Linked DNA regions of Homo sapiens. The protein of the gene in region 1 purifies or fractionates together with the protein of each later gene. This does not show direct contact. Each region holds a gene or a part of one and is shown on either strand. Other genes may lie near its edges. The genes, in order: ZC2HC1B, POTEE and DPH1.

Evidence for each region.
Region 2: the proteins of ZC2HC1B (region 1) and POTEE purify together in Homo sapiens (affinity purification with mass spectrometry; one large-scale study listed by BioGRID and IntAct). This does not show direct contact.
Region 3: the proteins of ZC2HC1B (region 1) and DPH1 purify together in Homo sapiens (affinity purification with mass spectrometry; one large-scale study listed by BioGRID and IntAct). This does not show direct contact.

What each region holds. Positions count from the first base shown.
Region 1 is NC_000006.12:143,863,096-143,867,290, forward strand, and holds the start of ZC2HC1B (zinc finger C2HC domain-containing protein 1B), read left to right. Parts: upstream 1-1,378; 5' UTR 1,379-1,444; coding exon 1,445-1,472; intron 1,473-4,195. Other genes in the region: protein LTV1 homolog, read left to right, coding at 1-191, 322-432.
Region 2 is NC_000002.12:131,226,478-131,230,128, forward strand, and holds part of POTEE (POTE ankyrin domain family member E), read left to right. Parts: intron 1-345; coding exon 346-452; intron 453-1,766; coding exon 1,767-1,904; intron 1,905-3,651.
Region 3 is NC_000017.11:2,036,520-2,040,170, forward strand, and holds part of DPH1 (2-(3-amino-3-carboxypropyl)histidine synthase subunit 1), read left to right. Parts: intron 1-9; coding exon 10-167; intron 168-315; coding exon 316-437; exon of another isoform or gene 438-819; intron 820-2,879; exon of another isoform or gene 2,880-3,235; coding exon 3,236-3,304; intron 3,305-3,651. UniProt on the Homo sapiens protein: Catalyzes the first step of diphthamide biosynthesis, a post-translational modification of histidine which occurs in elongation factor 2.

The DNA.
Region 1 (4,195 bases):
TTCGAATATCTTCTAAAACAGGAATACCTCTCAATGTCTTACCAAAGAAAGGACTCACAGCAAAGCAAACTGAAAGAATACAGATGATTAATGGCAGTGATCTTCCTAAAGTATCAACTCAGCCACGTTCTAAAAATGAAAGCAAAGAAGATAAAAGAGCAAGAAAGCAAGCTATAAAAGAAGAGCGCAAGGTAAAATATATTTTTCAAATGTGAGATTTACAAAGAGCTGGTGGAGGGGAAATTAGGGGAATTTTGTAAAAGCAGTCTGTATCAGTTTAAAGATGTGAATAATACAAGTATATTCTTGTACTTATAACAGGAACGAAGAGTGGAGAAGAAAGCTAACAAATTAGCATTTAAACTGGAGAAAAGAAGGCAAGAAAAAGAGCTGCTGAACTTGAAGAAGAATGTTGAGGGTCTAAAGCTATAGACAGTGGAGCATACAGGGCAAGGCACTTTATTAGGGGCTCCTCATCTTTGGTTATTGACTAGAAACTTCAGAAAGACAAAACTGTTTGCCATTTTTACTGGCAGATAAGAGGAAAATACAATATTTGTATTATTTTTATACTAGTAAGTGTCCCCTGCCAACCATCTTGTAAATATTGTAATACTTTAATTTTTAATATTATAAGCTTACATTTGCTCTGAAGTAAATGACTTCATGAATGTGAAATGTTTGATAAATTAAAGGAAAATATCTTCATAACGTGAATGGAATTGGTGTATTCATTTATTTGTATGGTTGTCATAGTTGTTTTTTGCAGATGTTTTCAAATATTTCTTTGAATCCTCTCCACGCCTTTTCAGGAATTACATGGTTTAATTTGCTGTAAATAGAAAAGTGGCCTGGTTAAACTCAATTTTGAAATGCTGACTTTATTCTGTTTAGTGTAAGATGAGTTTTTCTGAGAAGGTTCCACTGTTAGGAAGCTAAGTTTTCCCTTGCTGTATACAAAGGACTGTTTCAAAAGTGTGGCAAAACTGAATATTAAGGTTCTTAAGATTCATATTTCCTGTTATATTACTGGATGACTTGCTTTTGGGATTTAGGAACAGTGAAGGCAGGAAACAGAATAGTCAAGGAAATAAGAAAACTTATTTGGCTTCAGTGAGTCCCTAGTTCAAAATCAGAAATATTTATTTCAGTTTAAACTGGGGAGTTTGTCTTTTCAACATCAGTTAATGCTTGGAACCATTCATACTTGATTAAAATACATCGTTGAAAACTTTCCCTGTTTTTGATGAGTTGATTTTTGTTTTAACTGATTTAAACTTTTTCAAGGTTTAGGCAATGACATCATCACAATTGTTGATTATTTGGTAAACTATGACTTCTTGCAACAGATTAGTGGTCCTGGTTTATGTTCTTGACTAGTATGATGTTATCTGGACTGGGCTGTAAAAATCTGTGAACACTGTTGCTCTGAGTTAGGAACAGAATGGCTGGGGCAGAACCATTTTTGGCAGGTGAGCTGCACTTGATATCTAAATTATTAGAAAATGCCTTCATCTGTAATCATTCATTTATGGCTTTTCCAAAGCTGGTAGGTATTAGCTTGTTCTACCATGTGTGATCCGTTTAAATCTAAGTATTGTAGGATTTTTAAAGAGTTGTCAAAACTGATGGCATTAGGTATTCTACCAACATTGGCTAGAAAAAAATCTTGACTGAAGAGCTTGTCATTGCAGAAGTAGGATACTGGAGAGAATGTATTTAAATGCCAACCTGTGAAGTAAAGGGTCAGATGATGGTTTATGTCAATATTGAGAATGTAAGTACTAAAAGGATTGGCCATTTATTTTGATAGCTGTCTCAACTGAAGATTCTCAAAAACAGCAAGAGTCTTAATAGGCATTGGATGTTTCTTTGTCATGTTACTCAAATTCTGTGTTATGAGGTGCTAACTTCACTGTGTTTAAATCCATATATTATATATTTTGCAATTAAGAGAAAAAGACTAGGCCATGAGTCTTGATGAAGCATATTGTGATTTAGGCAGGTTATACTCCAAACTTAAATATTTTAATTTTATTCTGAAGAACAAATTCATGATACTTTAAATGAATTTTCTGATATCTTGGTTCTCTAAAAATCTATAAATGATGATTGGGAACTGAACATAAAAGCTCCATGCTAAATGTTGGGAGCCCAAGAGATCAGAGGGTTTTTGCCTTCAGGAGCCACATGGTCTGAGGAGGCAGGATAGGTGCAGCGAAATGTAACTGGCAATACTATCGTGGTAAGTACCACTTGTAATTAGAATCTTGGTACTTGCTGTTCCCCCAGAAGTGCTTTCACTGCAGACAGACCTTCCTCATGGTTGGTGCTCAGCTGTAACCTTCACTATAGGCTATTCCCTGAGCTTGTATTTAAAAATCCTGCACGCATCCCTCCCCTGCATCCTTGACCCTCCTTCCCTGGTTTATGTTCTCCACAACATCTGTTGACGCAGAGGACTGTTTTTCAGTCTCCTCTCGCAGGACAAACCCTGAAGGCACAGTGTTTTATTTATTGCTTTATCCTTAGGTCTGGAAGGGTGCCTGGCATTCAGTATACAGTCACAAAGTAGTGTATGAATGAATGGATAGATGGGAAAGATTTCAGAAAAGAATTAAACATAGAACCATAGCAGGGCCTAGAATCACTGGGGTTAGGGAGGAGAGAAAGGCCTAAGAGATCCAGGCAGGGGGCAAAATCTTGAAGAATTTGTATCTTAAACTTTTTTTTTTTGCCAAGACAGGTCTTGCTCTGGCGCCCGAGCTGGAGCGCAGTAGTGCGATCTCATCTCACTGCAACCTCCAACTCCCGGGTTCAGGCGATTCCCCTGCCTCAGCCTCCCGAGTAGCTGGGATTACAGGTGTGCACCACCATGCCCAGCTAATTTTTGTATTCTTAGTAGAGACAGGGTTTCGCCATGTTGGCCAGGCTGGTCTCAAAACTCTTGACCTTATGATCCGCCCGCCTCGGCCTCCCAAAGTGCTGGGATTACAGGCATGAGCCGCCAACACCCGGCCCACCTATTTTGTTTAAGCACTGCCCGTGAATGGTGTAAAACCACTTGGATATCATAGTACCACAGATGCTCCTTGACTCGTGGTGGGATTATGCCCTGATAAGCCCACCATAAGCTGAAAACATGGTAAGCCAAAAATGCATTTACTACACCTAACCTACTGAACATCATAGCTCAGCCTAGCCTACCTTAAACTTGCTCAGAATACTTTCCATTAGCCCACAGTTGTGCAAAACCATCTGGCAATACAGCACGCTGTAGAGTTATCAATTTGCCCTCGTGATCACATGGCTGACTGGGAGCAGTGGCTCACCACTGCTGCCCAGCATCACGAGAGGATTGTACCACTTTCTACTGAATACATATGCTTTCTCACCATCATGGAAAAATTGTTAACTTGAACCATCATAAGTTGAGGACTGTCTGTTACTTTACAAGTCTAAGTGTCTGAAGTGCAGTTACCGCTTGTGTCTATTACCTGTGATGCCCTGTATCTACATCTCCATTTTGATGTCATCAAGTCACCTCAGTTGAAAGAACTCTAACCTCTTGTAACTTTACTGTTACATTTTCAATAATTTTATGTTACTTCTTCATGTGGGTTGACATTGGTATGCTTTATCAGTCTTGTTCCAGTTAAAGGGCAGAGAAGGTAGAAATTCTAATGGCCTTGCATTTTAATTGTGAAACTTACAGGAGAATATTTAAAGCAAACACAGGGCCACTGTTCAAGTTAAGAAATAGAACATAGAAGTCCCCTGTGAATCCATCCTTGATTTCATTTCACTCTTTCCCCTCAGGTAATTCTTGCATAGTATCCAGCTGTCATAGAAGTTGAACATCTCTAATCCAAAATCCAAAAACGTTGAGTGCCAATGTGAGACAACAAATAGAAAATACCGTGTATAAGTACTTAATACAAGCTTTGTTTCATGCACAAAAGTATTTAAAATATTGCAAAAAGTTACTTTCAGGCTGTGTGTGTAAGGTGACATACGAAATAAAGTGTTTAGACTTGGGTCCCATCCCCATGATATCTTGTTCCAAAGTCTGAAAAAAAATCTGAAACACTTCTGGTCCCAAGCATTTTGGATAAGGGATACTTAACCTGCATTAAGTATTTCCTTCTTTTTTAAAGCCACTTGTATAGTATCCTTAAACACAACATCTTGTTTC
Region 2 (3,651 bases), on another chromosome or scaffold:
GATACAGCCCCTGCCCTCAAGAAGCTTTTTGTTTAGATGGGAAAAATATTATCATCCAATAACACCATGCCAAATGCTGGTTTAGAAGCAAAGAGCCTTGGAAGCAGTAAATGTTTAAAGTGAGTTTTTGAGATGATTAGAGTTACTGTGGTGAGGCAGAGAAGGGGTGTTTCCAAGGGAAGGAGCAGCGTGTGGGAAAGCACAGAAGAGTGAGAAGGAAGCGAGTACATTTTATTTACTTTCTATGCGTGTAAGTCCATAAGATCTTACATAAAGTTTCCACTTTGGTTGAGGAATATGTACTTTTTTGAATTACATAGGTTTTTGCTTTATATTGTTTTACAGCATGGCCTCACACCACTGTTACTTGGTGTACATGAGCAAAAACAGCAAGTCGTGAAATTTTTAATCAAGAAAAAAGCGAATTTAAATGCACTGGATAGATATGGAAGGTATAGTTCTTTCTTTTAATCTGTGTGTTCTAGATGGACAGCAGTCACTCAAGTCATAAATATTAAATTAATAAGATTAATGTATACTTACTGGGATGTAGTGATCAGTATCAACACAAATCAGTTAGGTAGAAAAACAATTACTTGGGCTGGGCAACATAAAGAACAGTTTTAGTAGGATTCATCTTCTCTTATTATATTGACTGATGTTATTTGTTATGTGACATTTTTGGTTACATGATCTTATGTTAGCTTAAAGGATTTCATATTAATTTTATGAAGTTTGAACTTTAACTTTTAGTTTACTTTATGACTCAGTATTGAACTTCTTAACCCTTTCTAATAGTTTTTAACCTGTGTCTTACATGCTTTTCCATTAAATCTGCTGTATTAAACATAAATAGGGGTTGAAAATCCTTTTGTCTTTTTAATGACTTTGCTTTAAGTTGCTTTCTTTGAAGAATATTAGTGTTAGCTTATCCCTACATGACAATTAATTGCTGTTCCCACATACTGTGGGTTCAACAGCTTTTTTCCTTTTGTTTTTCCAGTGTGTTTTGATGTTTTTATTTTTAATTGGTATGGAGAGAGGGAGTGAAGATAGTTTTAAGTGGATACACTTTTCCTTTAATGAAGACAAGCCGTACGTGGGTGATAAAGAGAAAAGAGCTAGGCTTTGGATTCACACAAGACTGGGTTTAATTAGTAACTTTCTTACTTGCTAGGTGTGTGACCTTGGGGACGTTATTTACCACCAAATATGTTGTCATATATGAAAAGTAGGAGAATATATCCTTCAAAGTTGGCTGTGCATAAGTAAGAAAGATACATGTGGCATTTAATTCAGTGCCTAGCACATGGTTATTGGCACCATTAACTGAAACTCCTATGACTACTATTCTTACCATTATTATTACTGCTTTGAGCATGCAGAGAGCTCTTATTTCTCTTACCCCCTAGCTGATTTTCTATTACAGCATGTCAGTCTAGGGAAGCTGTGACAAAATCTTCACTTAAATCTTTGTCCACCTCAGATAAGTGGCCCTAACATTGTTTCTTGCCCATCAAAGGACTTTAAATTAGTAGCTTCTGCTATGCAATACCCCACTGAGATAAGAGGGTTTTTTTTGGTCCCTTCCTTTTAACCTTGGTGGCATTTTACAAAGATGAACACTTGAGCACTCAAGATGCTTATGTCTTTTAGTGCATGTAAATGTTTGATTCTGCACAGACAGGCAAGATGTTACATTGGTAAAGTATATCAAATTAGCTTTAAAAATAACTTTATTACAGTTCCTATCTCTGTCATTTTAGGACTGCTCTCATACTTGCTGTATGTTGTGGATCAGCAAGTATAGTCAGCCTTCTACTTGAGCAAAATATTGATGTATCTTCTCAAGATCTATCTGGACAGACGGCCAGAGAGTATGCTGTTTCTAGTCATCATCATGTGTAAGTGTTTACATTAAAAGGCTAGTTAATGCTGAATTGAGGTTTAAAATAATTATAACAGTTGCATCTCACATATCAGGTGAGATGTCATAGTTTGGTTCAGGTAGTTTTCGCGTGGCAGTGAGTTAGTCCCCTGCATCAGCCAGAAATCAGACAAAAAGCAAGACAAGTTAGAAGTACCAATGGGTGCGGGATTCTTTATCTCAGGACTTTTAAGATCTTTATCCTTAGAGATCCCAGCATTGTTCATTTGATCCAAGTGTAACACCTATGCAGGGATAAAAAATAGTGTCACATCTTTAATTTTTCTGATTAGTTATTTGGGTCTTGAAATGTCTAGTTTAGCGGAAAGTCTTGTACTGTCTTCTGGGGACTATGTCCTACATACTCCTTGAATTTTTCAAGAACCGAAGGAGTTCACTAAATCCAAGGAAGACAGTCCCTTTTATCAAGTCAGAAGGAGGAGGAAAAAAGACATTGCAATCATTCTGTTGTTTCCGTTGATTTTGTTGCTGCTTTGTGGCCACTCAAACTGGTCCTGCTGCCTTAAGATGAATCAGTAGATTCAGATCCCTCAAGTCTTCATGGCGATTCATACAGTGACTTTGATGTTTTTTAATTCCCATACCTATGCTTATATGCTCAGCCATTGTTCCCAGAGCACCAGCCCCCTGCTCTGGCCGCTGGGCATCTTGACTTTATCCGCACACAAAGTGACCAAATTGACCCTTCCCCACATATTCAGAACCTAATGTGGAACCCACATCTTAGCCAGGAATTAGCTGAGACCTTCATGGTAAGAGATCCTTTGAGGCTGTTGTTGGTCTTTTCTCTGGCAGATGTTAGGTGGGCTTGTTCTAAAGGGTGAGAGGGGTTCAAATAATGTGGCAGAAAGAGGTCAGTGTTTGTTTCCTCTTTGCTACCAGATCTGTACTGTGAGGCACCTTTATATCCTGTATAGAACCCAGTAGAAAGTCCCATATGAACCTTGCCCTGAGCAGTGGCTCCCAGCTGTGGTTGGCCCCTTGAGTGATCTGATTTACATGATAATGAAAATTGTCGGAGCTACTTCCATCTCTAGCTCAAGATTTTAAGATATTTTCAAACTCTAGCTCACAGGAAGCCATTGAAGAGAATTCTCAGAATCTCAAGTAGGTTAGTTGGACTTCACAGAGCCAAGCCTTGTCCATGACGCATCACTAATCATGTGTAAAAGTAGGGCTTTGTGCTTGCTTCGGCGGCACATATCCTAAAATTGGAACAATACGGGGAAAGTTAGCATGGCTTCTGCATAAGGAGGCAGCACAGATCTTTGAAGCATTCCATATTTTGTGCAGTCACTGGAAGGTCATTTGACTATTTGCTGACTAGCTCTGAGGAAATAGTGTGAATCAAAGCAAAATGGGTGCCACCCAAATATTGAAATTGTGATTTGTGCTGCAAAAATAGTCATGTAAGATGGTCTATGAGATGACTTAGACCTGAATAACATGTTCGGTGCAAAATATATTGTTAGTATGTATGTCGAAAATTACAGAATGTCAGCTTGCTACTTCTCTGTGGAAACTAAAAAAAAATAAAAGTAGACTTTTGGTCTCCCATGTCAGCTGGAATTGAACATCAATATAAAGCATTATCCTAACAGACATCTACTGGCTGAGAGTTTGAGTCTGTAGAGAAGGATCGTTGGTCCAAGTCAGGTCTTAACATCCATTGGTTTTTCTGCCCTTGGTGTGATTGATCAACT
Region 3 (3,651 bases), on another chromosome or scaffold:
CTCCCACAGTTCCCATGGACACCTCGGCCCAAGACTTCCGGGTGCTGTACGTCTTTGTGGACATCCGGATAGACACTACACACCTCCTGGACTCTCTCCGCCTCACCTTTCCCCCAGCCACTGCCCTTGCCCTGGTCAGCACCATTCAGTTTGTGTCGACCTTGCAGGTGGGTGGAACGAGGATCCTCGGCCTCCTGCAGGGTGGACAGCGGCCACTCTCCAGCTGTTGCGGGATCCCCAGGTGCTCCAGGCTGTTTCTCAGCCCTGGCTCTCCTGCCCCAGCCGCTGGCTTCACTTCCCTCGTCATTCCTACAGGCAGCCGCCCAGGAGCTGAAAGCCGAGTATCGTGTGAGTGTCCCACAGTGCAAGCCCCTGTCCCCTGGAGAGATCCTGGGCTGCACATCCCCCCGACTGTCCAAAGAGGTGGAGGCCGTTGTGTAAGTTAAAAATGGGGGCCAAGTAAGTCCTAGAGACATGCGTGTACCCTGGGAGGGAGCCTGAGGTTCATCATCCAGGAAAGAAACCAAATCTAATGCTCCTTACCTGTGAGCCCGAGGTCACACTGCAAGGTAGGGACCAAACAGGGAGCAGACCTCAGGTTTACTGTCGCTTTCTCCACTGCCCAGTCCATCATCCAGAAGGCTGTGCAGGGTGGGGGCAGGAATCAGAGGGCCTGATGGGGGTTGAGGGTGGGCTGGAAATGGTGGGAATATAATTGGAGAAGATGGATGGGCACGCCCAGGCTGCAGCCCCATTAATTTACCATCCGGACAGCTAACAAGCAGAAGCAGCGTGTCTCCTGCCGCCTAATTATTTTAGGTAATGGAAATGCTTAATGTTGTGTGAATGCAGCCAGCCTGAGAGCCGACGGCTCCCCCGACTGGGACTAGGGAAGGGAGTCCCGTTCCGTACTAATGGCAGGGAGGGAGGGTCGCTCCCTGACTCAGTCCCACCTCTGGGGCTTTGGAGGCTGTTTCCACAGGCCTGACACCCCTGTCCCTAGACAGGCCCACATCAGGGCCTTCCCCAGCCCAGATCTGGCAGCCCTGCTCCCCGAGCAGCACTGAGTGGCATTCCCCCTGTGCCCACGTCACTCAGTCTCTACCCTTGGGGTCTTCAAAGTGTATGTTGGAGGGAGGGACACCCTGAGTGTTAGCCATTCATCAGAATGAAGTGTGGTCTCCAAGAGGGAGAGAAGGAGCTGCCACAGGCAGGTTATCTTCCACGCTCTGTAATCTTCATGGGCTGGGAAGCTACTGTCAGGGACAGCATGTCTGGGGGCACACTTGGTACAGCCTGGGTTGAGCCTCAGACACACTGCTTCCTAGCTGTTTAATACTAGGCGAGTTTCTTAACATCCCTGAGCCTCAGTTGTTACCTTCTGTAAAACAGGTATACTATACGTATCTGGGAGGATTAGGAGATAGGACTGCGTGAACTAATTCACAGCAGGTACTTAGTCTATGCCTGGTACACAGAAGGCACAAGTCCAATAAACAGTAGCTGTTGGCCGGGCACAGTGGCTCACGCCTGTAATCTCAACACTTTGGGAGGCCAAGGCAGGAGAATTGCATATGTCCAGGAGTTTGAGACCAGCTTGGGGAATATAATGAAACCCTGTTCTCTCCAAAAAAAAAAAAAAAAAAAAAAAAAAGAATTAGCTGGGTACAGTGTCCATGCCTGTAGTCCCAGCTCCTCAGGAGGCTTAGGTGAGAGGATCGCTTGAGCCTGGGAGGTTGAGGCTGCAGCGAGCCATGACCGAGTCACTCAACCTGGGTGACAGAGTAAGACCCTGCCTCAAAAAAACAAAATGAAAATCCGGTAGCTTTTGTTATAACTCAGTAACTGGCCCCAAGAGCTAGTTTGGGCAGAAAGTAGCCATTGTATGCCCTGCAACCTCATGTACAGCATAGATCAGAGGTCCCCAACCCCTGGTCCCATGTCCTGTTAGGAAACCTGCCGCACAGTAGAAGGTGAGGGGTGGGCCAGCCAGCGTGACCACCTGAGCTCCGCCTCCTGTCAGATCCGCCGCGGCATTAGATTCTTGTAGGAGCTCAAACCCTATCGTGACCTGTACATGCGAGGGATCTAGGTTGCATGATCTTTATGAGATCCTAATGCCTGATGATCTGAGGTGAGACAGTTTCATCCTGAAACCATCCCCCAATCCCACCCGTGTCTTCCACAAAACCTGTTCCCAGTGCCAAAAATATTGGTTACTGCTGGCGTAGATGACTCCTTGAACACTACTGTCCACATCTGTATTGAGCTTGTGAAGGAGAATCTGTTCCCCAACTTCCAAATGAGGATCTCTAGAACCCCAGGTGGCCTCACCACGGCCGGCTGCTCCTTCACTCTTCCTCAGAAGCTTGGGGTGGGACGGTTCTTAGATTCTGCATTATGTAAATAGAGGGACCGTAGAGTCATCCAATTCAAACTCCTTATTTCACACGTGAGAAAACCAAGGCTCCAAGAGGTGAAGTGAAGGCTTGTCCCAGTTTACACAGAGGCACAGCACAGCCAGCTGTGAACTCAGTCCTCTGGACTTTTTTTTTTTTTTGAGACAGAGTCTTGTTCTGTCGCCCAGGCTGGAGTGCAGAGGTGCGATCTCGGCTCACTGCAGCCTCTGCCTCCCGGGTTCAAGTGATTATCCTGCTTCAGCCTCCCCAGTAGCTGGGACTACAGGTGCCCGCCACCACGCCCAGCTAAGTTTTTGTATTTTTAGTAGAGACAGGGTTTCACCGTGTTAGCCAGGATGGTCTTGATCTCCTGACCTCGTGATCCACCCGCCTCGGCCTCCCAAAGTGTTGGGATTACAGGCATGAGCCACTGCACCTGGCAGCCCTGTGGACTTCTTTTTTTTTTTTTTTCTTTTTGAGACGGAGTCTCACTCTGTCACCCAGGCTGGAGTGCAGTGGCGCGATCTCAGCTCACTGCAAGCTACGCCTCCCGGGTTCACGCCATTCTCCTGCCTCAGCCTCCCGAGTAGCTGGGACTACAGGCGCCCGTCACCACACCCAGCTAAGTTTTTGTATTTTTAGTAGAGACGGGGTTTCACTGTGTTAGCCAGGATGGTCTCGATCTCCTGACCTCATGATCCGCCCGCCTCGGTCTCCCAAAGTGCTGGGATTACAGGCGTGAGCCACCGCGCCCGGCCAGCCCTGTGGACTTCTAAGCCAGCGAGTGCCTCTTCTGCTGCCCTAAACCACACTTAGCCTCCTTTCCACCCCTGCAGGTATCTTGGAGATGGCCGCTTCCATCTGGAGTCTGTCATGATTGCCAACCCCAATGTCCCCGCTTACCGGTATGGGCTGGGCCGGGCTGGGCTGACCAGCTGGTGAGGGGTGAGATTCCCTGCCACTGAGGTCCTCAATTGGTTGCATCCCCATTTCCTGGCCACTAAGCCACCAGCCCTAAGGGTCTGAGGCACTTGGGCCCTGGATCTGGGCATTAGCCCCAGGGCTGCTGTTGCCTACCCGTCTCCTGGGGTTTACACGGAGATCTTAAAGCCGCCCACTCTTGTCTGCTCCAGCTGTGGGACAGGTCTTCCTAATGACAGTCCCCGCTCTTGCCTCTGTTCTTAATTACCTGCGTGGGGCCTAAAGGTTCAGGAGCCCACGGGGCTGAGTCAGGAGCTGTGTGCATAATACT